4 linked regions of the Homo sapiens genome follow. The protein of the gene in region 2 interacts with the protein of the main gene of each other region in a biochemical or structural test. Each region holds a gene or a part of one and is shown on either strand. Other genes may lie near its edges. The genes, in order: MARVELD2, PLG, F3 and ENO1.

Region 1 (7,838 bases), on a different chromosome or scaffold from region 2:
TTGTTTTATTTATTTAATATTTTTAAGACAGGGTCTCACTCTGTTTCCCAGGCCAGAGCATAGGAGCACAATCATAGCTCACTGCAGCCTCAATCTCCCTGGCTCAAGCACTCCAGCTGCCTCAGCCTCCTGAGTAGCTGGGACTACAGGTGCATGCCACCATACCCAGCTAATTCTTTTTTTTTTTTTTTTTGAGACAGAGTCTCAATCTGTTGCCCAGGCTGGAGTGCAGTGGTGCCATCTCGGCTCACTGCAAGCTCCGCCTCCCAGGTTCATGCCATTCTCCTGCCTCAGCCTCCCAAGTAGCTGGGACTACAGGTGCTCGCCACCACGCCCGGCTAATTTTTTGTATTTTTAGTAGAGATGGGGACCATGTTAGCCGGGATGATCTTGATCTCCTGACCTCATAATCCACCCGCCTCGGCCTCCCAAAGTGCTGGGATTACAGGTGTGAGCCACCACGCTCGGCCGCTAATTCTTTAAAATTTTTAGTAGACATTAAGTATCACTATGTTGCCTAGGCTGGTCTTGAACTCCTGGGCTCAAGCGATCCTCCTGCCTTGGCCACCCAAAGTGCTGGGATTACAAGCGTTAGCCACTGCACCTGGTCTGATAACCCCATCTTTATACTGTTGAACAATTTGGAAATTCCTAAGGCTTTATTTTATTTTACTTTGGAAAACGAAGACCCTTCATTTAACCTGCCTTGCACCAGGCATGCTGAAAGTATACTGGTGGACAAACCAGACTGAAATCCTTGCCTTCATGATGCTTTAACCGGGGGAGTGCCGGGCAGATTGACAGATGATAGATAAATGAAATATACAGTATGCTAAAGAACAAAGTTGAGAAAGGGGGTAAAGACTGCAATGGGGACAGGATGTTACCATCTTAAACCGAGTGGGCAGGGAAATCTTCACAGAGAAAGGGATATCTGAGTATAGAACTGAAGGTGAAGGAGGAAGCCAGGCCATTATCAGGGACAAGTGTTCAGGCAGATGGAATAGCTAGCGCAAATGCCCTGAAGCAGGAGTGCCTGGTATGTTCAAGAAATATTTAGGCATGGAAGCTACTGTGGCAGCAGCAAAGTGGGTAAGAAGGTGAATAGTAGAACTGAGGCCATCTGAATCATGTAGGGCCTTGAAAACCACTGGAAAGAAAGGACTTTGTCTTTTGCTAGGAGTGAGATGAGAAGCCACTGGAGGATTCTGAATAGAGGAGTGACATGACTTGACTTGTTTTAACAGTATCACTATGGATGCTGTGTTGAGAGTACACTCCAGAAGGCAAGAGGTAAAACAGGAAGACTGGCTAGGCCATTGAAATAATCCAATGGATCACTGAGATCTTGAGAAGAGGTCAAATGCTAGACAGGTATTTAAAATTTTTATTATAGAATTTTTCAAACATAATAAAAAGTAGAAAGAATAGCATTATGAACCCTTGTGTACCCACATCCAGCTTCTACACTTATCGATTTATGGCCAAACTTGTTTCATTTATACTCCCCATACTATTTCCTCTGCCAATAGAGTCCTCTGAAGTAAACCCCAGACATCTGATCATTTTATCTATCTATACCTCATTCTCCACCCCTCCAGCTTAGCCTTGGGGAGCAGCAGACTGAAGAGTGTTTCAGATGCGTTAAAAATCCAGGTAGAGACGTTAAGAGGGCAAGCAAGGCACACAGGGTATGTACAGACTGGAGACAAGGGAATGCGGTGGAAACCCAGGGTCTTCTAATAGGGCACTCCGACCTTAGAGGATTAACTGTGATGGCCCCAGCAGGGTGCCCAATGCAAAGCGGCTCTGTATATTATAACAATCAGTTATTTTTGTACCTTTCTCTTTCTTTCTCTAAAAAAGTGTAAGTTCTAGAAATGCTATTACGACTCTAGTTTTTGAAACACATTCCTAAGAAATGTAGAAGCAAAAGCACAACAAATGATTTTAGCAAGTTTTACACAGCATTTACAGGATACGCTATGCTTAATTCAACTCACTGGTAAAAATACGATTCACTGTAATGGATTTAACTCTTCACCTGTGAAGTGGCTTATTTGAATCAAACCACCCTATCCATTTTTAAAGAAAAAACAAGCAATTATTAAAGAGTTGTGGAAAAGCAAGATAATGTGATTTTTAGAAGGGAATGGTTAGCTGTATTTCATTACATCTTAAATATCTGGATACCCCTAATGTCTTTCAAGATGTCACTGAGAGTTCGTTCTGGTCCCGCAGGTCGCGGCAGCGTGTGTCTTTGTCCTGCTCAGGCCCCGGACCCTTACTCCACTCTTGGACACTCATCTTGGAAAGCCGCGGCAATGGCAGGAGAAATGGCTGCCCCAGCAAAGTGTCACAGGAATCATGCCTGGTCACCTTTACACAAACAGAACCACCGGTTTACCTGGCTTAAAAGTTTTGCTGGACCCAAGAAACGGGTAGATTTCGGATACTTCTGCGCTTCCGAGGGGTCGGGAAAGGCTCTGCGGTTCTAACTAACCCACGACTGCCCGGGGGTACCGAGCATTTTAGCTGTGGGGTCTCCCCCGCGCCAGCCTCTGGGCGCCCGGTCCCACAAATCTCATTGTGTCCTCGGTTCTGCCCGCGCCGGCTAGGCGTTCGTCTTCGCGTTTCTGGCTGAAACCCACTGTCTTTGGAGATTCCGACCCAACGAGGCCGAAACTAAGCCGGGAGACCTCCCAGGTAAGGAGCACCGAGATCGCCCCGAGGTGCGCGCCCCGCCCCGCGCCCGGAAGGACGGCGGCTCGGCCGCACCTGCGTCCGCAGAGCGAAACCTGGCGGGACGCGGGCCTCCCCGGATCCCTGGCTCCGGCCTCCCCCGCGGGCTATGGCAGGCTGAGCGCCGAGCGCGGGCAGCCGTCCGTCGCAGCACACCTGGGCCGGGGGCCGCCGGGCCCTCCTCTCCCGGTCACGTGGCCCCACCCCGGTCCCACTTACCTGCGCAGCCGCCAGGAAGAGCGCGCACGCTGCCCAGGACTCTGAAACCGGTATCGGGCTCCCGGGGTGGGGGCGGGGCCGGGACGGGACGAGCCCAGCTTTCCCCGCCCGGCTTTGCCCCGCCCGGATCTGTCGGCCCGACAACCGCTCTGGGCCCAGGCTGCTCGGTGCCACCAGCCGGCACGTCGCGGCAATGACCACACACTGGGCTCTTTTGGAAAGAGTTTACAGTTCTCATCGCAACGTTGCCATCCTCTTCCCTATCTTTTGAAAAGTTTGACACTGGGGGAGGGAGATTGGTGCACTGTGCTTAAGGACCCATGGCAGCGAGTGCGTGCTAGATAATGTTAAAAGACAGGAGAAACAAAATTAAATTCAACATTTTAATTGTGATATAACTTATGTAAATACTTTCCAAAAAGTATCTAAGATATTCCACTGTACAACACATCAAAACTATCTGAGAAGCGGGAGACAATAAAGTGTAAATAAGGCACACAGTTTACACTCGTAATTGCATCCTAAACTGTTGAATAGTTGATATTTACAACCCCCCAATAACGTTTTTGCATCCTGAATTAGTCCTTCACATCTTGATATTTGGCATAATGTTCAAACACACTTTATACACACTGACCGCTCCTTAAACCACTCACAGATTTAATAAATACCGAAAAAATTAAGAGATTTGAAGGCTTGATCTTCTATTTACTTCAAGATGACAGAAGAGTAGGTTTCTTGTGATGAAATACTACAAGAATGAAGAATTAACAAACTGTTGTGTAATTCATCAGAAAAGCATATTAACTCTGCTGAAGTACCACTGAATGAAACAAAAATGAAGCTGTGAAGTAGCAATCTGATTAGCAGGCTGGCTTCTATGTCCCATCACTCTCGTAGTCTTCTATTATTATGTTTTCTTCCATGTCTCCTTGGGCTGAAAAGGGCTGGGGCTGGCTAGCAGGCAGTTCACTGGCACTATTCTGACTCAAAGGAAGAGACCAGGTTTCCGGCACAGTGGCTTGAGTGGGTTCACCCAGAGATTCCTCTGCAGAATGTCCTCCATTAAGCTGGGCTTCATCTCCGCTGTCAGGGTCTATCATTCCATGTTCCCTGTCAGTCAGGGCTTCCATTTTCAATCTGTCAGATTCACAGTGCAGGCATTAATAAGAACCAAAGGAGAAGATTTTTAAATTACACCATGAGTGTGATGATTATGAAGCCATCTTTCATTTACCTACATTGTGCTGTTTAGCTAGTCCCTTTAACTATAAAAACAAAACTACAAGGTAAATGACAAACTGAATAAGTTCCTACAACTTAAAATACAAAAAGGAGCTGAACACGATGGCTCATGCCTGTACTATCTGCACTGTGGGAGGCCAAGGCAGGCAGATCACTTGAGGCCAGGAGTTCAAGACCAGCCTGGCCAACATGGCAAAAACCCATCTCTATTGAAAATAGAAAAATTAGCCAGGCGTGGTGGCACGCATCTGTAATCCCAGCTACTCAGGAGGCTGAGGCAGGAGAATTGTTTGAACCCAGGAGGCAGAAGCTGCAGTGAGCCAAGCTCGTGCCACTGAACTCCAGCCTGTACGACAGAGCAAGACTCTGTCTCCAAACAAAAAACAAACAAACAAAAAAACCAAACCAAACCACAACAACAAAAACACCTAAAAATAAAAAGAAATAATGTCTTCAGTAAAGAATTTTTCTTTTTTCTTTTTTTTCATTGAGACTGTCTTTCTCTATCGCCCAGGCAGGAGTGCAGTGGTGCAATCTCAGTTTACTGCAACCTCTGCCTCCCAGGTTCAAGCGATTCTCCTGCCTCAGCCTCCCAAGTAGCTGGGATTACAGGCACATGCCATCATGCCCAACTAATTTGTATTTTTAGTAGAGATGGGGTTTCACCATGTTGGCCAGGGTAATCTTGAACTCCCGAACTCAGGTGATCCATCTGCCTCCGCCTCCCAAAGTGCGGGGATTACAAGTGTGAGCCACCACACCCAGCCTTCAGTAAAGAATTTTTACAAATTAAAAAGGAAAAAATGAAATAGAAAAATGGGCACAAACATGGACAACTTATAAAACAAATACAAATGGTTCCTAAATTGTTAAATCTAATTTGTAATTTTAAAAATGAAAATTAACATAATGAGCTACTACTGTCATCTTTTTTTTTTTTTGAGACAGTCTTGCTCTGTCACCCAGGCTACAGGGCAGTAGCACGATCTTGGCTCACTGCAACCTCCACTTCAGGTTCAAGCGATTCTCCTGTCTCAGCCTCTGGAGTAGCAGGGATTACACGCGGGCACCACCACACCCAGCTAGTTTTTGTATTTTTAGCAGAGATAGGGTTTCACCATGTTGGCCAGGCTGGTCTCGAACTCCTGACCTTAGATGATCCACCCACCTCAGCCTCCCAAAGTGCTGGGATTACAAGCATGAGCCACTGCGCCTGGCCTATTACTGTCATCTTCTAAACTGGCAAAGATACTTTTAAAACCCAGTGGTGGCAAGGGTTAGGAGAAAAGAACATACTGATACACTGTAAGTGGATACAAAACTGGCAAAATATTCTTGCCAACAATTTGGCAATAAAGAGGAAAAGCCCCAAAAGGTATATACCTATTGATCCAGCAATTTCATTTGTAGGAATTCACCCTAAGTAAATAGTATTTGAAGTGCATGATGACTTATCTATAAGGCTGGGATAGTAAAAGCTGAAAAAAAGCTAAATGGGCAAAAATAACGTGTAGGTTGAATTACAGGAAATTAAACACCTATTAAATATTAAGTATTAATATTTAATACTAAATACTAAACATATGAACAATGGTTTTAAATATGGTCAACATAAATAAAAGATAGTACCAGTCATTGTAATATATAGCACTGAAAATACTGCCTCTCGTGGCCAGGCGTGGTGGCTCACGCCTGTAATCCCAGCACTTTGGGAGGCCGAAGTGGGCGGATCACGAGGTCAGGAGATCAAGACCATCCTGGCTAACACAGTGAAACCCTGTCTCTACTAAAAATACAAAAAATTAGCTGGGCGTGGTGGCGGGCGCCTGTAGTCCCAGCTACTCGGCAGGCTGAGGCAGGAGAATGGTGTGAGCCCAGAAGGTGGAGCTTGCAGTGAGCCGAGATCGTGCTACTGCACTCCAGCCTGGGCGATAAAGCTAGACTCCGTCTACAAAAAAAAAAGAAAAGAAAATACTGCCTCTCAAGTCACATCAAGTAGGTAGTTGAACCAATAATAAAATAGTGAAGATTCTCATTCAATTTAGCCTTGTGTAAATTGCAGCAACTCAATACATCTCAGGAGCAAAAATACAATAGAACATACTTGTCTTTATTTTGATGCCATAATCTTAGGGGGTTGGGGAGAGAAGCCATCAAAGAGACTTGGTCCTGCTTTCATTCAGAGGGATGTGAGAAGAAAAGCAGTGTTTATGAAATGTGTAAGCCCTGATCACATCCCAGTGGGACGATGCTTCAAGATCCATCCATCATGGTCTTTCTGCGATAGGAAAGATGGGCCCCACATAGCTAAGCCAGTATACAGAAAAAAACATTAACACTACAAAGGCCTTAATGAATCTTGGAGGGTAAAGAGGGGGAAAAAGCTCACATCACAGGAGTTTTCCATTTGGGACCAGAAATAGGAGAAAAGGTAGGAGGAGTCAGAGGTGCCATTTCTATCACTTACTTTTGTCCATGCATTCAGTAAGCAAGATTTTTTTAAATCTTTTTTTTGAGATGGAGTTTTGCTTTTGTTGCCCAGGCTGGGGTGCAATGGTGTGATCTTGGCTCACTGCAACCTCCACCTCCTGGGTTGAAGCGATTCTCCTGCCTCAGCCTCCTGAGTAGCTGGGATTACAGGCATGTGCCACCACACCCAGCTAAATTTTGTATTTTTAGTAGAGACACGGTTTCACCATGTTGTCCAGGCTGGTCTTGAACTCCTTATCTCAGGTGATCCACCTGCCTCGGGCTCCCAAAGTGCTGGGATTACAAGCATAAGCCACCACGCCCGGCCATTTTTAAAATCTTTAAACAATTCCTAAGTGCTTAATTCGATCTTACAAATAAGCTAAGTCAAACTGAAATATAAGTTTTGTGTTAATCACTGATAATGGCACAGAAGCTACTTTCCAATAAAATGAACAGTATATATATATATATATATATATATATATATAGACAGACATCTATTTTTTGCTTGTTTAAATTTTCTAAAATAAGAAAATATGAAGGACTCTTCTACTTTCTGAGGCAGTTCCTAGTCACTGCAGGTCTTCAAGCATAGGCTAAGAACATCTCTCAACAGGAAAGCTGGCAAGGGGTTTCTAGATTTGTTGAGTTGGAGGATTTTAAAGATTCCTCTGCCTTTGTGATTCCATGCTTCCATTTAATCTGGTATAGTCCATTGGGAGTGGGTGAAGATATGCTGTTATATTTAAGAAAAGGAAGGGTCTACAATACAATTATGTTTATAAATTACTAGGTACAGTATGTCTTTCTTGGATGTTACAGGTAACAGTTATTGATTCATACTGAACATATTCAGTAGACATTTCATTATCAGCTTTTTGGAAATTGAGATGATCAGCTTACCTTCCAAAGTGTCGCTTCAGAGGGAGCCTTCCAATATCTTGGATAAAAGAAATCTGAGCTGAAACAGATTTTTTAAAAGTTGTAAACAATTTTCCAAAGAAAATATACAAATGGCCAATAAGCACCTGAAAAGATGCTGAACATCACTAATCTTTAGAGAAATGCAAATCCAAGCCATAGTGAGATACCAATTCACATCTATTAGGATGACTGTTACAAAAAACCAGAAAACAAGAAGTGTGGGTAAGGATGTGGAG
Region 2 (7,023 bases):
GCTGGAAAGGCTCTTCTCTCCTTCTAGAGTGTCAGAGCATCCCAGGACATCACCCCTCAGTTCACAGACCCAGAGAAGCTGCCCTGGGCTTGTGGCCAGGCCCAGGAGAGCAGCTCAGGCTCCTGCCCCGTGCCTTCTCATCCAGGCCATGCTCATCCCTGTCCACACTGACACCCTGTCTTCCAGAACCACCAGCACAGCGAGCGCCCTGCGTGCCTTGTCACCTGTCCCAAACCTGCTTCTCCTACAAATAGCTGTTTCTTAGCTGACTCAACTAGTATCTGGCTCCAAACAGCACTAAATGAGTGACATAAGCAAATGTTTCACTTTGTCAGGCTTAGTGAAACAACATTTCAACAGGAAAGAGAAAATCAAATCAAAGAAGACAATAATAATAATATAATTTACATTTATAAACTGTATTTGTGATTTTTTTGACATTGTGAAGTTGTTTTTTTTTTGTTTGTTTTTTGTTTTTTTGGTGTTTTTTTTTTTGGTACAGTGTCTTACTCTGTCGCCCAGGCTGGAATGCAGTGACACGATCATAACTCACTGCAGCCTCAAACTCCGGGACTCAAGTGACCCTCCTGCCTCAGCCTCCCAAGTAGCTGGGATTACAGGCACCCACACCAGACACCCAACTCGATCTTGTGGTTTTTAAAGTGCTTTGAAACAAATATAGTCTTATATGATTCTCTTAAACATATTATGATGAAGGGGGAATTGTCAGCCTGGAATAACTGAATCGTTCTCTGATCATGAATGTGTATGAACTGGTGAACATTAAGTGAGTTCTAGGAGTAACAGAGTACCTCATTTCAACTCTTTTTCCACATGAGAAAACGGAGTCCTGCTGCCTTTCTCAAGAGCACAGCTAGCATGTGGCAGGGCTAGGGTTGAAGATTGATGCTGTCCCCAAAGCCCTTGAGCCTTTCATGTGATAGACAGTTCCTCCCCACTGCCATGCAGTGGCCATGGCCCATAAAACCCAGACATAAAGCAAATATCTTCACCAGCGTGGGGTGAAGACCACAGGTGAACGAGTACCTGCTTAGCTTTAGCAAGGCAATATCTTTTCGTGTGGGCTCCAAGAACAGCCTAGACACTTCTATTTCCTGAACATGCGGTTCGAGATTCACTTCTTGGTGTGCACCCAGGATGACCTTGTAGGATGAAGGCCTTGGGGACCTAGAAAAGATGAGGACGTCAAGAGGAAAATATGGTCCAGCCCCTTCAGGTAACCTCTGTGCCATGAAATTGGTGCTGTCTCCCTGACACCCTTGGCCACTCAGAATTAGTGACTTCTGAGTGGCAAGAAGCAAAATTCATGATTTGCTTGAAACAGGCAGTTAAGGAATGTTCTTGGGCTGTTTGGGCAGAGACTGATACAGCCTATGGTAGTGAACAGCTCTGTTCTGCAGTTTATTCAGGCCCACAAAATCATCTGTACTGTGTCTTTCCTCTGCAGTTTCTTTCTAGAAACCCTTCCCTTCTCTCTTATCCAATTGCCCTGGCCTGGTCCCTAGTGTCACAGCCAGAGAAGGAAGGGAGGAAGAGTGAGAAAGGAAAGGAGGAAAGGAGGAAAAGAAGGACAGAAAAAGTATTTAAGACAAGACTTCATGTCAATTGTCCCCTAAACATACTTCTCCAAGCAGTGGGCAGCAGTCAACACCCACTCTGGGGATATCAAGGTGCCTCCACAGAAGTGCATTCCAAACCTGGAAAGAGGATTTAGTTCAAATTTTAGTTAAATTGATACTTTGTTCTGCTCCATTGTACAGAAAGCCAGAAAGACACGTTCACTTAATTTTGACCATGTTCATATTCCCAAAGGAAAGGACTGCAAGCCCAGCATCAGGATGGTAGTAATTTTGGCCAGTGCTCCAGGAGTGGGATTTTTGAGAAGGGCCCATCTATGCCAATTTTTCCGATGCTTGGGGGAGGCACAGGCATGGCCTGTCCACAGGAGAGCAAAGCTAAGTAACTCCGCATGAAGCTCTACAGCCACGGCTTTCACCCCACAGCCCAGGACTCCAACAGAAGCCACCAGCCCAAGACCTTCCCCCGAGGCCTCTTTCATTTTTATGACAAGATCTATGTAAGGTCTGATGAATCACTCTTCAAGGAGCCAGATGTGATCCTGAGCAGCAGTGACTCATGGGAGTCTTCTGATCTTACCTGAGAAACTTTACTTTTGGGGAATGTTTCCTGAATCACTTACTTTCTAGGACTGCGTAGGCAGGTAATAGCTCAGAATAATGGTGTGAGCCATTTGGAACCAAATTTAAAGAAGAGGAATAGAGATAGGAAGTGCATGATGGTAGCATGTTGATAAGTCAGTGAGGACGTAGACCACCACATAGTTTAGGAAAGAATGAATCTGAAATATGTGGAAGGTGAAAGCTCTGTAGAGCAAGGAGTTACTAAATGATAAAATAAAGAAAAATCGACTCAACAGCAGAGTGAAATGCAATGCGATCAGGTTTGTCGATGGCATTTCACAAACTTATGGAAAAGAGTCTCTTTAGGGGAAAACAGCAATTGAGCACAGGCACCCTCGTGTAGAAGTGAGATGAGGAAGCAAAACAGGCAGACGGATGGGCCTGTTTCCTATGCTTGCTTCCTAAGAGATACCCAAGAAAATGGAACTTATGAAAGGCATGTTCCACTGAAACAATACCCAAAATGTCCAGGTTCCCTGGGATTGGACTGATCACTCTTCATTTATGGGGATCATGACCTAGAATTTTTTTGTTTGCGAATGGATGAGTAGCCTCTGCATTGAATTCAATGATTCACGAAAGTGTCCAAAGAAAAAGAATCTGTGCCTGTGATAGACTGGAGATAATTTTGTCCTTGCTCTCCCAACCCAGAAAGTGTCACATTTCTAAAAACTTCCCCCTCTTTTCATCTGACAATGAGACAATGGATATCCATAGAAATCCTCAGAGCATCTTCAGTATTTTCCAGCAATATTGGAACTTGGTGCAAATCACTGTGCCTACAGATTTTGATGGAGCTGCCCAGATCAAGAAAAAGACAGCAATTTTTGTCATTTTCACAGTAGAGAACCTATAAAAATATATATGTATATATACATATATTAATTTTTGTAGCTTTTTTCCTCCTTCAGAAAACTTAGAGGCAGGTGCTGATGCCTCAGCTGTGTGGATTTTATGTAAATGTAGAAGGGTTTTGCAGGGCTTACGTGGAGGGACAGTATAAATCGTTTCTGGGCCTGTTCTTACCTTGTTCTAAGACTGACTTGCCAGGGCCAGGAATGTGGGTGGGCCACACACCCCCCTACAACCCTTCCAGGACATTTCTTCGGCTCCACTTGAGGCTTCCCACAATCAAATGAAGGGGCCGCTGTGGCACAAGGTGGGAAAGAAATCCCATTTGAGACAAGGTAGCAATTTTGTGGTGTAATTCGAGACAAATTCCAAGCACTGAGTTTTTGACATCTTAAAGGCCGAACTAAATAGTAAAATCATCATCTTTTGGAACATTTTCTCTAAGTTTCAAAAGTGGTAGTAGACAACACAGGACCCTCTCTTTTCAAGAAAATATAAGCACTTTGTAATTATTTTGTTGGAGAAGTGATCAAACAGACTGGTATAGTTTAGCATCAGAATGAGATATTTTCTGAGAAAACCTTGATTGGGACAAATGGTTATTTGTCATTGTTATTCTGACTCCATGCAGTATGTTTAGAACATGATGCCATCCTTCCCATAATCATCATCATCACCATCACCATCTAAACCATGTAAAGTTTACTGAAAACCATAATTGTCATCACTGCTGAAAGGCACAAAGGTTTATTTTTCCATGTGAGTCTCTGTGTGTGCACGTGTGTGTGTGTGTGTATGTGATTGTATGTAGCAAGGATTACTGTCCTAAGTTGAAATGTTGCCTTCTGTCAGCCAGCTTCAGGACAGCTCCTCTGGGGAGCCTCCCATGACTAACCAACGGCCGTGGGGGTGACTTAAACATATGACTTTATTCTTCTTTTCCTCCTCCCTGCCTTCTCTCTGTAGCCAGCCCACAGGGTCTCTGGAGGTAGGGACAGTGTCCCATCTTTGGTACCATCCACCAATGCCTACAACAGTGCAGGGGCTGCAGAGGGTATTCAAAAATGCTTCTCTGTTGTCTCCAGCCCTTCAAGGTCTTCACAAATGTAAATGTTAATATTTTAAATAATTGTTCATACAATTATTAGTAACAACTGTAAGAGGAAATTCCTTCCCAACCAACCAGAGATTCTATGCTCTAGTGAATCTGGAACCTGGGTTTTCCAAATAACTTTACATTTGCCATGGGCTGTTCTGAGAATCTATCTATGGAAGCCTTTTTTTAAAAAAAGAAGCAAGGCATAGAATGCAATCATCTTCTCTAGTGCTGAGCTCAATTTCTGCTAGTATGCCTTACATACAGTAGACATGCATCGTTGTACTAAAAGAGTAACTACAGAAATGATGGTACCCTGCTCCTACTATTCAAAACAAAACTGAATGTTTCTATTTATTTTTGCTTATTATTATTTGTACTGTATATGTTGGTGGAAAGGAAATAGTTATTAAAATCATTCACCACCAGAGGCTCTAGCTTTCTCAAGCACGAGTCAAACCTGAATAAACCATATCCTTCTGCATGAAACAGTCCTCAGGATTTCCAAGTGTCTGATGGGAACGCTTCTCACCAGGCTTGGGGTTAACCTCACTTGTCTCACATCAAGGTTAGGTGGGGGACCTCACAGTCCTTTGGGAAAAATCTTGTTCCCATTCTTCCTTCTTTCTCCAATCTCTAAGAACCTGATTCTTGTACATCCTCAATGTGGGTGAGGACACCAGAATTGCACCTGGGAAACTACTGCACTTCCCTTCCATGGGAGTCAAAGGTGCATGAGTCCCAGGCACGGTAGTGGGGTCTGAGGCAAGAAAATCAGTCTGGGCTCAACTTCAAGGCAGCCTGTCAAGGATAGAGAGCCCGGGCAGTGAGAGGCAGTGGTGTGTACCAGATGGGGCCAGAAGTGGAGAACTGGAACTGACTCCATCGAGGGACTTTGAGTTAGAGGTGCCACCAAGATGCTTCTGCAGAAAAAGTCAGCTATCAACTCATGCTAAATCCAGAGATCACAATGCCGCATTACAATAATATTGGCCAAGTAGAATCTTTCATACCATCCTAACCCCTCCTTCCTCCCTCTTGGTGTCCCTAGGAGAAGCCCAAATGCGAAGCTGGGCAGTGTGGCTCCCATGATCTTCATCACTGCCCTGTACCACCTTCCCAGGCAATCTCAGGATGCTGGTCTTCAGTGGACTTGGAGGCCAAGCTCCTTCCCCCAGCTCAAGGTCCCTCCACATGGCAGACCCAACCACAAGCAACCAAATTATGCATAGGAGAAGTCCAGGGTGGTTTTCTGTAACTAGGACAAATTGATTGGTCAGCAGAATGTTAAATATGGGACAATTCCAAGTAGCTTCCTTTCTTTTTTTTTTTTTTTTTTTCAGAAATACCCATGGATTTGTTATTCCAATTCTTTAAGAACTAATGTCAACTCCCCTTCCCCTGATCCAAGCCTCATACTCCCAACAAGAGTCTCAGAGCAATGAGGATGGAACCCAACAAGCAGTCTCTAAGCTATGTCACTAATGTGACTTGTGAGTAGTAAACTTATAAGAAAGGCCATCTGGGGCTAAAGAGCTGCACTACCTTTCATTGAATTCCTAGGATGGCCATCTGAGGTTTACAATGTGCGTTACATGCTTACCTGTTTCCTGCTGTTTGTATTTTCTTTCTTACTTCTCAGCTGTGGAAAGGGAAAGTTTTTCATCCGAATGACTCTAAATTTTTCATGCATCCCACGCTAGACATGGCAGCATTCAGTGGGACCATCCTGGGGCTGACTAGATTACCTCTAAGCTTGCTCTTTGGGAATTTTACATTTATTTTATTTATGTGTGCCTGGGGCGATGGGCAGGTGTTCCTCTAACAAATGTGGCCAATAGTAGGGCAGATTCAAGATGCCCATGATGAAGAGTGGGGTCTGATGGAGAGGGCAGCTATCTCCTCCCCAGAAGCAGTCTGCTCAGAAGCCCTTTTCCTTTTTTGTTGCAAATCCATATTAAGTAAGCAGTTTCCTTACCAAAAAGAAGGCAACCTACCACACTGAGGGACATCACAGTAGTCGTAAAGTTTTCTTGGATTTGTCGTGTAGCACCAGGGACCACCTACATCACCATCAGGGTTACGGCAGTACTGAAAACAAGAAGGCATGTAAGCTCCAGCTCACGTGGGGCAGGAGAGGGAGAAGGTGTTCCAAGGCTCACGCATTTCATGTCTATCCTTAGAAGACATAAAGGAGTGTTTCTTTTTCCTTCCTTCTTTTTTTTTTTTTTTTTTTTTTCTGAGGTGGAGTTTTGCTCTTGTCGCCCAGGCTGGAGTGCAGTGGCATGATCTCAGCTCACTGCAACCTCCATCTCCTGGGTTCAAGCGATTCTCCTGCTTCAGCCTCCTGAGTAGCTGCAACTGCAGGTGCACGCCACCACACCTGGCTAATTTTTTTTTCTATTTTCAGTAGAGATGAGGTTTCACCATTTTGGCCAGGCTAGTCTCGAACTCCTGACCTCAGGTGATCTGCTTGTCTCAGCCTCCCAAAGTGTAGGGATTACAGGTGTGAGCCACCATGCTCAGCCTCTTCTTCCTTTCTATTATTATTATTATTATTTTGGCAAAGTTATTTTTTGAATGCTCTAAAGCCGTCCTTCCTGTGCCCCTGTTCAAAAGGAGCTATGAGGCCACACCCCTGGACAGGGAGTGGTGACCCTCGGGGGTCTTTGGAGAATGGGTCTCCCTTCAGGAGCCTGACCCAGTGGAGGCCTTAGAGCCCCAGCACCAAAGGACAGTGGGACATCATTGATGTGCATTGTCCCTGGAGGGCTCAGCGCTCTCCTACCCGATGAAGCCTGTTTGCTGTTGATTCAGAAACATTTATTTCCATGCATTGTGCGCCCTCTATGG
Region 3 (7,023 bases), on a different chromosome or scaffold from region 2:
AATGGGCCTGAGCTCCCAACATATGCACATGCATGTACACACACGTGTCCGCCATATACACACATGCATGCATGTGGGTATATTTGATATACTCAATCCCTTCCCTTGATGGGTTAGACTCTACAGCCTCTGTGGCAACAGCCCACAGTGGGTACTCACGAATGTCTACTGTGTCCTGCTGCAGCTGGTCCAGAAGCCACCCCCAGAATTAGAATTTAAGCATGAAAAAATGCCCAGGGAAATCTGTGACTTGTTGCTAAATCCTAAACACAGTTTGTGTATCCAGTGCTCAGCAGAGGGCTTAGCACATGACAGGTGCTCAAGAAAACACCTGCTAATACAAGGGCACAATCAACACAGAAACATTTCTAAATGTCCAAAATCTTTTTTGTACCAAAGCAAAATCAAAACCAAAACAAACAAATAACAACAAAAAACCTCCAGGCAGTTTGTTTTCCTGAATATTTAACCAAGGAAGTATATCCCAGCCCTGAGGGTGGAGCTACTCCTCCAGAAGTCACCCACAGCACCCATACCCCCAGGCAAATGGCTGGCAGAGCCACTCACCTCTGAATTCCCCTTTCTCCTGGCCCATACACTCTACCGGGCTGTCTGTACTCTTCCGGTTAACTGTTCGGGAGGGAATCACTGCTTGAACACTGAAACAGTAGTTTTCTCCTTTATCCACATCAATCAAAAACTCATTAGTGTTTGTTTTGGCTGTTTTCTGTAAAAAGATAGAGTTCTTAATTCATCTGGGCTCTGAGTCAATTCTTTCCCCTTTATTAAGTCACTGTGGAAGTAAAAACCTAGGTTCTAAGCAAAGCCTACAAGAACACAGCTGACACGTGAAGGATTAGAAGTGACTTCGCTAATCAGTTTCCCTTGATCACTGCTAAAAATGCCTTTTCCAAGACTGAGAAGATCCAATTTAGGCATATTGAACCCTATTGAGCCCCTTTAGAAGATATCTGCAGTAAAAGAAAAAGGAAGGGAGTATTATGCATTGAACCAAAAACAAATTTTGTGCCTGGGATCCTCAATAGAGGGAGAAATGTGAGCATGGCGGGACCTTTAGAGATGACCTGATCCAGCCGGTTGGCTGAGGAACCTGGGTCTCCGAGGGGGCCCTGCCCAGAGTCACAGGGTAGTGCAGAGTCACAGGTAGGACCAGGCCTGTTGTCCACCCCTCCCCACAGTGCGCGCTCCCCCTTCTACTCCATCACCTTCTCAACAACTCTGTTCTGCTATTTTTGAATTGGGGAAGAAATGGGTTGTAAAACCCAAGTATTCACAATTTAAAACAGGTCATAAAAACAAATTAAAAAATGCTCACCTTTCCTGAACTTGAAGATTTCCAATAATAAAGTGTATAAATTAAGTCCTTGCCAAAAACATCCCGGAGGCTTAGGAAAGTGTTGTTCCTTCTGACTAAAGTCCGTTCATCTTCTACGGTCACATTCACTTTTGTTCCCACCTGTTCAAAACTCTGAATTGTTGGCTGTCCGAGGTTTGCTGAAACAAAGGAAATGAGCTTGGTTGGAACCAAAGAATTCTGTACAAAGTCAAATCCTGTTTTGTTATCACAATTGACAACTTAATTATCTCTCATATAAAACATGTGCATAGAACCAGCTCCCTGAAAGAAGCAGGCGTGGCGGCCTGGAGCTGAATCCTAAGACATTCTGTGGTAGTGCTGGCCCAAGGGGAAGACAATGGAGCCTCAGATGTCATTTTAAGTTTTCTAGTAGTCACATTAGAAAAAGTAAAAAGGAACAGGTGAAATTAATTTTAATAATATATTTTATTTAACCAAAGACAGTTGACCCCTGAACAACATGGGTTTGAACTCTGTGGATCCACTTGTATGCAAATTTTTTTAAATAAAAGTTACACCAAGTGTGCCGCCTCCTACTTCCTCCATCTTTTCTCCTGCCGTGGCCCCTGCTCTTCCTCCTCCTCCTCCTCCTCAGCCTACTCAACATGAAGATGACGAGGATGAACACCTTTATGATGATCCACTTCCACTTTATCAATAGTAAATATATTTTCTCTTCCTTATAATTCTTTCTCTTCCTTCCTTCTTTCTTTTCTTTTCTTTTCTTTTTTTTCTTTCTTTCCCTTTCTTTTTTAGACAGAGTCTCGCTCTGTCACCCAGGCCGGAGTGCAGTGGCGCAATCTCAGTTCACTGCAACCTCCTCCACCTGGGTTGAAGTGATTCTCCTGCCTCAGCCTCCCAAGTAGCTGGGATTACAGGCACCCACAACCACGCCTGGCTAATTTTTGTATTTTTAGTAGAGATGGGGTTTCACCATGTTGGCCAGGCTGGTCTTGAACTCCTGACCTCAAGTGATCCACCCGCCTTAGCATCCCAAAGTTCTGAGATTACAGGCACGAGCCACCATGCCCAGCCTCTTTTCCTTATAATTTTCTTAATAACATTTTCTTTCCTCTAGCTTACTTTATTGTAAGAATACAGTATATAATACACGCAACATGAAAAATGTGTGTTAATTGACTGTTTATCTTATTGGTAAGGCTGCAGTCAACAGTCAACCGATAGGTAGGCTATTAGTAGTTAAGTTTTTGGGGAGTCAAGTTATACTCGGATTTTCAACTGCACAGGGAGTCGGTGCCTCTCAGCCATGCATTGCTTGAGTCAACTGCATATATCTGGAATATAATCATTTTAATGTGTAATCAATATAAAAAAGTTTTGAGATATTCTACACTTCTTAAATTCCAGTGTGTACTTTATACTTAGAGCATTAGCCATATTTCAAGTGGTCAACAGCCACATGTGGCTAGTGGCTACTATACTGAACAGGGTGGTAGCATAAACTACGATATTTTAGGTTCAAAAATATGTAGGGCTGTGAGAAAGCCCAGGAAATGTCCTTGGTACCTCGAGAAGCCGGATTTAACCACGGGGTCTCTGCAATGGCTCAATTATCTCATGTGCTTTGGTTAAATGACAGGAAAACAAACATCAATTCACAGGCCAAATATGTGTGTGCACATGCAAAACAAACACATAAAATATCTTCTATCTTGCACCAACAAAGGATTTGAAGTAGCTTACAAAAAAACTCAAGAACTATTAATATAAAAGAGAATCATGAGGATGCCATTAATTAGGGGGGAAATGAATGTCAACCATGCCACAGTCACCAGAGGGGCTGCTGACGCTGCTACATTCTTGCCTGGTGCCACAAAAGACACAAGCAGAAGCACCTGGGGGTCTGGAGGGTCTTGCAAATGGGGGCTCTGGGAAGGCAGCCACATTCACCTGGGGTCAGGCCCCCTATTTCAACCCTCAAAGTAGATACCAGAGGAGGATGGTTGGTTGGTTGTCCGTCCACCCCTTCTTTTCACCATTCCTACCTTGAGAAACTGTTCTCTCTCGCTGGGCCTAACACTCACACAACACCTTCATTCTAACCAGCTGGCCTTACAAGAGAAGCTAATTTCACTCTACTCAATGTGCTACATGCATTTATCTAAATTGCCTAGCTCAGAGCCACAGTTGCGGCAAAAGAATAAATCTCCTACTTGACAGGAATTCTCTTCATTCTTTTACTGGCTCCTAGGGCCAGCTTACAGGGGCAAAGGCTGAGGAGGAAAGTATTCCACCTTTCCAAAACCAGAACGAGGGTGACAGGCAGATGGCTGGGCAGGTGCTGGCACATCACGGAACTCAAATCATGGCCAACTGATTAGAAAAGGTCAGCATAATTAGGCTAATTATGGGCTCAGAGGGAAACCATGGACTTTCCTCATTGATTTATGACCGTTTGGGAAAAATCCTCAACTGGGATTTTTAGTGTGATAACGGGACAGAAAAATCAGGATACATGATATATATATAGGGAAAAGCTAAAACCCCGGCCTTGGTGGATTTCCTATCCCTACCCGCTTCCCTGGCCCGCCCTCTCCCAACACACATTCAGCCGGTTACTGAGGACAGTAACAGGGTCTGGGGACAGACTGGGGGAGAAAGTTACTTGATGACACTGTCATCAGCTCCAAAGTTCACATTCTGTGAACCTCCTACCACATCTGGAATGTGTGAAGAGGGCTGTGATACATACCAGTTTCTGAGAAAAAAAGAATAAATATTTTTAATTTTGTAGCCCCTAAAGGCACAAGATCACGAGAATGTTCAGACGTTTCTAACAAGAATGAACGGTATTACAGCCCAAGCCACTTACTCTCCAGGTAAGGTGTGAACTCTGGGGAGTTCTCATACAGAGGCTCCCCAGCAGAACCGGTGCTCTCCACATTCCCTGCCGGGTAGGAGAAGACCCGTGCCAAGTACGTCTGCTTCACATCCTTCACAATCTCGTCGGTGAGGTCACACTCTGTGTCTGTTGTGTAAAAGCATTTGCTTTTCCAATCTCCTGACTTAGTGCTAAAGAAAGAAAAGAAGGAAGAAACATAAATGGAATGTTACAATTTGCACCCAACAAGATAGACTGCTTCCTGGCTGTGGTGTTCTGTGCTAACATCAGGAGCCCTACAATCAATCCTAATGATGCAGTCACTGTGCTGAGCACTTTGCTTTTTTTTAAACATTGTTTTGTAGAGATGGGGTCCTGCTATGTTGCCCAGGCTGATCCTTCTGCTTCGGCCTCCCAAAGTGCTGAATGTACAGGTGTGAGCCATCATACCTAGCAACACCGAGCACTTGGGATGCATGTTTGAGTCCTCATAGCAACCCAGGGGATGGCTCTGTAATTTGCCTTGTTTTTACAAATAAGGCTACTGAGACAAAGTGAGATTGGGTGACTAGCTCAAAATCACACAGCTGGACTTTGAACCAGACAGCTATTTGACTCTTGGATCTGTACTCAACCATTTTGTTAAATATCTTTCTTTTAGAATGTAGACGCTCTCTGTCAGGGTAACAGGAGAGAAAGAGCAGTTTTCCATCAAGATGAGGCAACTGAGACAAAGTGAGGTTGTTTACTATAGTCTACTTATTATAGTTGTTTGTTATATAATGTTCTATATTCTATGTAGAATAGAGTCTATATAGTGAGTCTACATAATAACATGTTATACATATATTCTCTCATGACCACTATTAATAATATTATTAATCATTCATTGACTCCACTATATGCCAGGTATTCTGCTGGACCCTTTACTCATGTTACTTCATTTGATATAATCCTTCCAAGAAGGTGTTGGATCTTTCTTATCCATGAGGACACTGAAGCTCACAGGCACTAAGCAACTTGCAGAAGGTCACATATCTAACGAGTGGCAGAGCTGGGTCTGTTTGCCCCATTATACTACATGCCTCCCTTCCTTTGCAAGATGTGAATCCATCCCAACAAAGATTACAGAATAAGAGTACAGGTAGTATCTGTCTAATAAAGTCTGAGACTAAAAAGCTAAAGACAGATCTTTCTTTTGTGAGACGTCACTGAAGGGGAAATGATTTAAAGGACTTCTACTGACAATGAAATTCTTCTAAATGACCAAAATAATAAATAGGTGAAGCGTCACTGCAACTTGATTCACACACTTCTGTCCCATGGAAAGTGACAGTTATGCTGCTCTTCCCTTTGGCATTACTGACTGCCAGAGCCAGACCCATCGTTCAAGGCCAGGTCCCAACTCCACCTGCTCCAGGAATCTCCAGATCTCCCTGCTGAGCATTTACATCTCCCTCCCCTGTCCCCCAGCATGAGTTTCTCCACGATGCTGTTAATATGAACACAGTCTGCCTGGTACGAGGGCTGCATGCCCTTGTGTGCCCCCATTAAGCAGCAGGGCTATAGGGTCTCGCTGACTATTAGATGGTTTGCATTTACAGGTTGAATTAATACATAATCTCAGGGAAAACGAGGCACCACATGGATTCCATTGTCTAAATTCACACATAAAAGCCACAAATATATTTTCTTTCAAAATCTGAACTAAGTAACCAGGCCAAAAGGATTTGGGTAAACACATTCTTTATCCTAAAGTGCACAAACTAAGATTGATACTGAAATATTTTGGTTTCTATTTATTTAATTTTATGTGATAAAAGTAGAGAGGGTATTTTGTTCCCGAATGACCAAAATGTGTTTTATTTTATCATTTCCATTTCAAAAAGTGAATGAGACTATGCTGTTTCCTTTTTATCAGTACAGCAAATAGTTGTTCAGATAACAGGAGAAAGTCTCCTAGGGCTTTCTATGTAACATAGAGATACAGTATTTGGTTCCTCCCAGCTCACAGCAGGGACCACATACTCTATAGCAAAATTTAGCACAAGGATTTATACAGTACCCTGGTAAGTAGTAAAACTGTATAAACAGGTAATGAAGGGACAATTCTGTAGAAAATCCCTCTGAATGCCATTAATAGCATTAACACTTTAAAAGCCTCCAAGGTTCCTCCAGGCATTGCAAAACCCTCTGATTTGGAATTTTGAGTTAACTAAAAAATTCAGTCACTAATTTGGTTGCAGGTTGTTTTCCAGAAGCTTTGTAAATTCAGCTTTAGAATTCAGAACATTTCCATGGAATGAATATCACCGGTGACGGTTTGTGCTAAGGCTTAAGCCAATAACATTTCCCAACCACCACTGAAAACTGTTAGCAAAGGTGAAAAATGCAGTTGGAGTTCCAAGTAGGGGCTTCTGCACAGCAGTAGTGTCCTGCGGCTGGAGCCAGGCTGCAGTAGTGAGAGCAGTCGGGAGGGAAGAGGGGCAGCTGCTTAAGATGCTAACTGTAGGGAGGGAAAACAGGCAGAGAGGAAGGCCAACTGAGGAGATGCAGTGGGCAAGACTTTCCTTCTTCCTCCCGCTTTGGAGCCTCCCATCAGACTGTGGCAGAGCCACCTGAGGGATGGTGGTGTGTGGATACTGGGTAGACTTTGGTTCCAGACCTGACATGGGCACTCACCATCAGTGTAGTCATGAATAAATCCCTCACTTCTCAGAGCAACAGTTTCCTCAACTGTAAAATGACTGCTCTGGTCCTTTTTAACCAGGAATCTCATTTATTCCTGGGGTGGGCAGGAGAA
Region 4 (7,231 bases), on a different chromosome or scaffold from region 2:
GATCTTGGCTACTGCCACTTCCTGGGACTTTCCAATTTCACAGTACTTGGGTCTTCAGTGTTGTTATGTCATTAATGATAACATCTTTATTTTATTTTAGTTACTTTTTTAAGAGATGGCGGTCTCACTATGCTGCCCAGGCTGCTCTCAAACTCCTGGGCTCAAGCGATCCTCCCCTGCCTTGGCCTCCCAAAGCATGCTAGGATGATTATAGGGGTAAGCCACCAGGACCAGCCAATAATGACATCTAATTATTTCTTCCCAACGGGGTTTTATAATTTGTAAATAGAGGAAAGATTCTTTGAACACCAGGATACTTCAAGGGAAGGGGCTTCCTTTAACACCACCTTAAAAAAAAAAATACAAGAATTTCCAGCAATGAACAACAAATACCAATTCCTCAAAGAAAAACCCATTCTTACTTTTTTCCTTGGCGCTCTCCAAAGAAACTAACTGAACAACTTATAGAACTGAGGTGGGTGAGAGGAACTTAGTGTTTAAAGCCATTATCTACCTGGGCTCCCCTCCAACATCTTCTCTGGAATGTCCTGAGGTGGCAAGTGGCAGGTTTTTAACTTTCAAAATTATTTACTGAAGTCACTTCTGTGGCTTTGTTGTCTATGTAACAATGGAGTTTTATTCATTAGCCAAAAAAAGGTACTTACTTTTTACTAGGTTCCAAAAAGGCAAATTTGTTTAAACATATTTTTAGATTTAATTTTGCGTTTTGGCAAATTATATACCCGAGTAACATTTCCATCACTGCAAAAAGTTATCTCAGGCCATTTCCAGTCAATATCCCCCTGCCCCATCTCCAGGCCACCACTGTGGTATACTTTGAGTATTTCAGTCATACTTTTAAAGGCAATTTTATTAGGGTGCCTCAGTACTTTTGTTTTCATTTTAGTGACTTAAGACGAAAGAAAGTCTTGGCCGGGCGCGGTGGCTCACGCCTGTAATCCCAGCACTTTGGGAGGCCGAGGAGGGTGGATCACGAGGTCAGGAGAGGAGGCTGAGGCAGAAGAATGGTGTGAACCCGGGAGGTGGAGCTTGCAGTGAGTCGAGATCGCGCCACTACACTCCAGCCTGGGCGACAGAGAGACTCCGTCTCAGAAAAAAAAAAAAAGACAAACGTCTTAGGATGTGAAAATAAAGTGTGATTTTTTTTTTATTTTTTGAGACGGAGTTTCGCTGTTGTCGCCCAGACTGGAGTGCAATGGCGCCATTTTGGCTCACTGCAACCTCAGCCTCCTGTCTCAGCCTCCCGAGTAGGTGGGATTACAGGCGCCTGCCATTACGCCCAGGTGATTTTTTTTTTTTTTTGAGACGGAGTCGCGCTCTTTCGCCCAGGCTAGAGTGCAGTGACACGATCTCGACTCACTGCAGGCTCCGCCTCCAGAGTAGCTGGGACTACAGGCGCCCACCACCACACCCGGCTAATTTTTTGTATTTTTAGTAGAGATGGGGTTTAGTAGAGTAGGATGGTCTCGATCTCCTGACCTCGTGAGCCACCCACCTCGGCCTCCCAAAGTGCTAGGATTACAGGCGTGAGCCACCGCGCCTGGTCGATTTTTGTATTTTCAGTAGAGACGGGGTTTCACCACGTTGGTCAGGCTGGTCTCTAACTCCCGACCTCAGGTGATCCTGAGGAGGCCCACCTCGGCATCCCAAAGTGCTCGGATTACAGGCGTGAGCCACCGCGCCCGGACCATTCACAGCTTTTTTAGCTGCCTGGATGGAACCCCGAATTAGGGACACGGTAAATGAATGGAGCAGTCAGGGCCCGGGTGGGCCTGAAAGGCAAGTGAAGCAATGGACCCTACCGCCCAGAGAAGCGCACAGAGCAGGGGAACATTGAACAGGAAGCTTTCTTAAAATACATCCTTCTTGGCCTAGCGCGGTGGCTCACGCCTGTAATCCCAGCACTTTGGGAGGCCGAGGCGGGCGGATCACCTGAGGTCGGGAGCTCAAGACCAGCCTGGCCAACATGGTGAAACACCGCCTCTACTAAAACAACAACAACAACAAAAAAAAAACAAAATTAGCCGGGCGTGGTGGCGCATGCCTGTAATCCCAGCTACTCGGGAGGCTGAGGTAGGAGAATCGCTTGAACCCAGGAGGCCGAGGTTGCGGTGAACCGAGATCCGAGATCGCGCAATTGCACTCCAGCCTGGGCAACAATAGCAAAACTCAAAAAAAAAAAAAAACCAAATCAGATCAGGCCCGATTTTTGGTGGCCAGCCGGGGAGCCGCTCTTGCCCAACTTGGGCGAGGTCGCCTGGAGGACTTGCCAATGATCTAACGGCTCTGCTGTAGGTTCCTCAAGAGGTGCCTTCTCGGAGTTAAATGAGTCACCGCTTACTAGGCAGAAGCGCGGGCCGCGAGCGCGGGCGAGAGGCGGGGGCTACCGGTGGGGGAGGGGGCCGCAGCCTCGTGGCCATCTCCACTATCGCCGCCCTCCTCCATTTTAGGAAGGGCCTGGCCTGAGTGGCCACCGCCGCTAAGTCTGCGTCTATCCCAAAAACCTTACACTTGGCTACGATGGAAAAGCAACTTCCACTCCCAACTCCCGCTGTGCTAAGCAGCTCGCGTGTGCAGCTCCCGACCTTCCCTGACAGTGACTCGGCCCCGCAGTCGGTAATCACGTGTTGATCTGCACTTTCCCCTCCAAAGAAATCGGGGGCCCAGCACGTGCGCCTGGCATTGCGCCCCCGCCCCGGGCCTCGGGGTGAGCGGGGGCGCCAGTTCCCACCCAGGGAGGCGGCTTGCACGTGCCCCCGACCCCGCCACGCTGGGCCTGCGGGCGCGCCGCCTCCCTCGGAGGGAAAAGAGCCCCACAAGCCCAGAAAAGCCCTGCGCCGCCTGCCCGTTGCTCAGCCCTTCCCCAATCATTACCTAGCCACTGGGTCTCGTCGCCTAGGAGAGGAAGCGGAGGGTGCTGCAGACACCGAGGTGAACGTAAAGCCGGCGAGATCTCCGTGCTCCGGGTACCCACAGATACTGTCCGCGCCGCCCGCGCCGACTTCCTGCCTAGCTAAGGCGAGCCCCACCCACTTCCCGCCTCCGGGGCACGCCCCCTCAGCTCCGCCTCGCCATTCGTCGGGAGAGCCGTCACTCATTCCCTCACCTCCCGGAAAGGGGTGGGACTGCGACGGCTGCAGTAGCGTGGAAAGGGGGGTGACGTCCCGCGGACTTGAGGCGGGCAGATCTGGGGGGCCCCGACTCCCCAGCGGCCCTGTAGTGGTGCGGGCGAAACTCTGGCCCCAGATAGGACCGGTGAGCCGAACTGGGGTGTGCGGAGCCGGGGCTCCGGGGGATGGCCCGGGGCGGCGTGGCGGGCATGAGAGCTCGGGGCTCCGTCACGTACTCCGAGTCCCGCACGCACTCAGCGTCGCTCTGGGGCCCCACGTCCGGCCCTCGACCTTGCTGACAACTTTGGCGGCCCGGGCCTGCCGCGGCCCTCCTGCCCCGCCCCTCCTGCCTCGCGCCGCGATCCGAGAGACCCCGTTGGCGTCGAGTCGTTGAGAGGCTGCGCGCCTCGGCCCCACTCCGGGGTTGGGGCGCTGGCCCCGCCGCAGCGCTGCGTGTCCGGGGCCACGTGCGCCGCCTGCGCCTGCGCGCTGCCCTCCAGCCGCGCCCGTCTGGCCGGGCTCCGCCTGGCACCCGCCAAGGTGACCCTGTCCCTTTCTCCTTGCTGCGGTGAGAATCAGGCCGAGACAGCCAAAGGAAGGTTCACTTTCCTTTAATTCTACCTCATACTTTTTGAGTGCCTTCTAGGTGTCCGGCGCGCCCCCACGTGCTTCCCCAGTGTTAATTCATTCTCTCTCTAGTCCATGTCATGTTGCCTCTCAAATTTTACATCCCTCTCATTCCCATCTAGGGAACTAGATCAAACCTACCTGGATTCTTGTGAACCATTCATGTGAATTATTTGGAACTGGAATTTCACACAGACCCGGGGAATTTCTCAAAGTTCAAGACGGGTCATATTCCGTGGAATACGGAAGGAGTTGGAGTGATTTCACTTTTCTGATCAAGAACTGATAGCCATTAAAACTCAGCTCCGCAATATATCCCCCCACTCCAAGGGAGGGCTGAGATGATCACTTCGTTTTCTGTTACGGCTACTTTTATATTTTTCAACATTACTGCTGGTCTGTAAGAGAACTAAAACATCTGATTTTCCTCATTTCCTTGTAAAGAGGTGTTCAAATATGTACTTGAATTTAATTATTTCTTCTGGTCAGCTGCAAAACCTGCTTTTCTTCCTTAACCCCTAGCATTTTTATCCTCTTAGCTACAGACAGGTTTCCATGGCGTTGGTTAAAAATTAAGGCCTATTGAGACCATAGTATTTGCTTTCCAGTGAGTAAGAAGCAAGAACTTTAGGATTAAATTCAGCAAAAAGAAAAAAAAAAAGAGTAAAATTTTGCAAGCAGAGTTTGTGATTTCACCAGCAACACACTAACGTTTTTGGCTACTGAAAACCACTATCCCCAGCCCCATGACTCAGCAGCTAAATCAACAGCCAACATCTCCTACTGGTAAGGACTCTAAGAAATCAGGCACTTGGTACTCTCAGAGCAATTCTAAGGCGTGGCCCTGAAAGGGCTCCAAACAATCTTATTTTACATAAAAATGGTTAGAGAGATAAAGATACTCTGCTGTGGCCAGAACCAGTAAATCTAGCAGGAAATCAGAGGCCGAACATGATCCCGGACTGCTGCCGTTGCAAGATTCTTGGAGGCTGCAGCGCCACATTCTGAGCCAGCACTTCGACCTCACATTGTAGCTAAAATGTTAATGATTACTAGAGATGTCCTGAAATCTTTTTCAAAATTCACAGGCTGCCAAATGCCCTCCCTGTTTCCATAGCTCCTTAGGCTTTGTTAGCAGGCTGTGGGGTTCACATTTGCTTGTAGTCAGCACAACGGCATTGCATTTAGTTATTATTTCTCACTTGCTGTAAGCTTGTTGAGAAGTTTTATTGGTGGTGGGCAGGTGGGGAATAACTGTCCAAAGCTATCAGAATACCACACCTTGAAGCACTGTAGGTAACACATGCATGGTGTCTGCAGGTGGCCGGGATCAAGGGAGAGTGAATCTGCTACGACCTGTAACTCGCTTGGATTACTGATTCTCCCTGTGATACGTGTGTAAAAATCACTGGTCAGCTTGAGAAAGGGATCTTTGTGAAAGAGGGTCTCCAGCCAGATAGGGAACTTCAGGGTTGGATAAGGAGCTCTGGGGAGGTAAGATACCAGATGAGTGCAGAAGGGGATGTAGCTGGATGGTCCCTCCTCATAACAGATCATGAGGTTTTGGTATTCATCACTCAGTATTTCACGTACACCAGAGACTACATAAAGCGTATATAAATCTCTGTGTACCCACATCCCGCTTAAGAAATGGAACACCATGCTGGGCGCGGTGGCTCACGCCTGTCATCCCAGCACTTTGGGAGGCCGAGGCGGGCGGATGACGAGGTCAGGAGTTCCAAGACTAGCCTGACCAACATGGTGAAACCCCGTCTCTACTAAAAATATAAAAATCAGCTGGGCTTGGTGGCAGGCGCCTGTAGTCCCAGTTACTCAGGAGGCTGAGGCAGGAGAACCACTTGAACCCGGGAGGCGGAGCTTGCAGTGAGCCGAGATCACGCCACTGCACTCCAGCCTGGATGACAGAGCGAGACACCGTCTCCAAAAAAAAAAAAAAAAAAAAAGAAAGAAAGAAAGAAATGGAACCCTAGAGTCCAGGCTTAGTGGCTCACATCAGTACTCCCAGCACTTAGGGAGGCTGAGGCAGGAGGATTGCTTGAGCCCAGGAGTTCCAGAACAGCAGAACAGCCTGGGCAACATGGAGGAGACCCCAGTCTCTGTAAAAACTAAAAAATTAGGCAGATGTGGCACATGCCTGTAGTCCTATCCCAGCTGCTTGGGAGACTCGGGTGGGAGTGTCACTTGAGCCCAGGAGGTTAAGATTACAATGAGCTATGATTGTACCAGTGCACTCCAGCCTGGGAGATAAAGACCTGTCTCAAAGGAAGAAATGGGGCCGGACATGGTGGCTCACCCCTATAATCCCATCACTTTGGGAGGCTGAGGGGGGTGGATCACCTGAGGTCAGGAGTTTGAGACCAGCCTGGCCAACATGGTGAAACCCCATCTCGACTAAAAATACAAAAAATTAGCCAGGTGTGGTGGCACATGCCTGTAATCCCAGCTACTCAGGAGGCTAAGGCAAGAGAATTGCTTGAACCCAAGAGGCAGAGGTTGCAGTGAGCCAAGATCATGCCATTGCACTCCAGCCTGGGCAACAAGAGTTAAAAAAAGAAAAGAAATGGAAAGTTAAAAAAAAAAAAGAAAAAAGAAATGGAGGCCGGGTGCGGTGGCTCATGCCTGTAATCCCAGCACTTTGGGAGGTTAAGGCGGGTGGATGACCTGAGGTCAGGAGTTCAAGACCAGCCTGGCCAACATGGTGAAACCCCATCTCTACCAAAAATACAAAGATTAGCCGGGTGTGGTGGTACATGCCTGTACTCCCAGCTGCTCGGGAGGCTGAGGCAGGAGAATCATTTGAACCCGGGAGGCGGAGGTTGCAATGAGCCAAGAGTGTGCCATTACACTCCAGCCGGGCGACAGAGCAAGATTCCTTCTCAAAAAAATAAAAAAAAGAAATGGAACATTAGTAATGTCATTTAGGTCCCCTGTATGTTCTTTGACCCCAGAGGTAGCCACTATTCTAAATTTTGTGTTTTATTATTCCCTTGCTTTTTTTTTTTTTTTTTTTTTTTTTTGAGACGGAGTCTCACTCTGTCGCACAGGCTGGAGTGCAGTGGCTGATCTCAGCTCACTTTAAGTTCCGCCTCTCCGGTTCACACCATTCTCTTGCCTCAGCCTCCCGAGTAGCTGGGACTAGAGGTGCCCGCCACCACACCCAGCTAATTTTTTGTATTTTTGGTAGAGATGGGGTTTCACCATGTTAGCCAGAATGGTCTCGATCTCCTGACCTCGTGATCCACCTGCTTCAGCCTCCCAAAGTGCTGGGATTACAAGTGTGAGCCACCGCACCTGGTCTATTCCCTTGCTTTTTAAAATGATTTTTTTTTTTTTATTTTTAGAAGGAGTCTCATTTTTTTTTGCCCAGGCTGGAGTGCACTGATGCGATCTCGACTCACTGCAACCTCTGCCTCCTGGATTCAAGCGATCCTCCTGCCTCAGCCTCCTGAGTA

Evidence for each region.
Region 1: the proteins of PLG (region 2) and MARVELD2 interact in a biophysical measurement, tested with the Homo sapiens proteins (one study listed by IntAct).
Region 3: the proteins of PLG (region 2) and F3 form a complex in vitro, tested with the Homo sapiens proteins (one study listed by BioGRID).
Region 4: the proteins of PLG (region 2) and ENO1 form a complex in vitro, tested with the Homo sapiens proteins (one study listed by BioGRID).

What each region holds. Positions count from the first base shown.
Region 1 is NC_000005.10:69,410,294-69,418,131, reverse strand, and holds the start of MARVELD2 (MARVEL domain-containing protein 2), read right to left. Parts: upstream 3,017-7,838; 5' UTR 2,962-3,016; exon of another isoform or gene 2,408-2,961; intron 1-2,407. Other genes in the region: cell cycle checkpoint protein RAD17, read right to left, coding at 3,840-4,101, 7,582-7,639. UniProt on the Homo sapiens protein: Plays a role in the formation of tricellular tight junctions and of epithelial barriers.
Region 2 is NC_000006.12:160,733,233-160,740,255, reverse strand, and holds part of PLG (plasminogen isoform 1 precursor), read right to left. Parts: intron 6,262-7,023; coding exon 6,168-6,261; intron 3,370-6,167; coding exon 3,249-3,369; intron 1,719-3,248; coding exon 1,644-1,718; intron 1,189-1,643; coding exon 1,048-1,188; intron 1-1,047. UniProt on the Homo sapiens protein: Plasmin dissolves the fibrin of blood clots and acts as a proteolytic factor in a variety of other processes including embryonic development, tissue remodeling, tumor invasion, and inflammation. In ovulation, weakens the walls of the Graafian follicle.
Region 3 is NC_000001.11:94,531,754-94,538,776, forward strand, and holds part of F3 (tissue factor isoform 1 precursor), read right to left. Parts: intron 4,412-7,023; coding exon 4,212-4,411; intron 1,516-4,211; coding exon 1,337-1,515; intron 728-1,336; coding exon 568-727; intron 1-567. UniProt on the Homo sapiens protein: Initiates blood coagulation by forming a complex with circulating factor VII or VIIa. The [TF:VIIa] complex activates factors IX or X by specific limited proteolysis.
Region 4 is NC_000001.11:8,875,685-8,882,915, forward strand, and holds the start of ENO1 (alpha-enolase), read right to left. Parts: upstream 3,003-7,231; 5' UTR 2,896-3,002; intron 1-2,895. UniProt on the Homo sapiens protein: Glycolytic enzyme the catalyzes the conversion of 2-phosphoglycerate to phosphoenolpyruvate. In addition to glycolysis, involved in various processes such as growth control, hypoxia tolerance and allergic responses.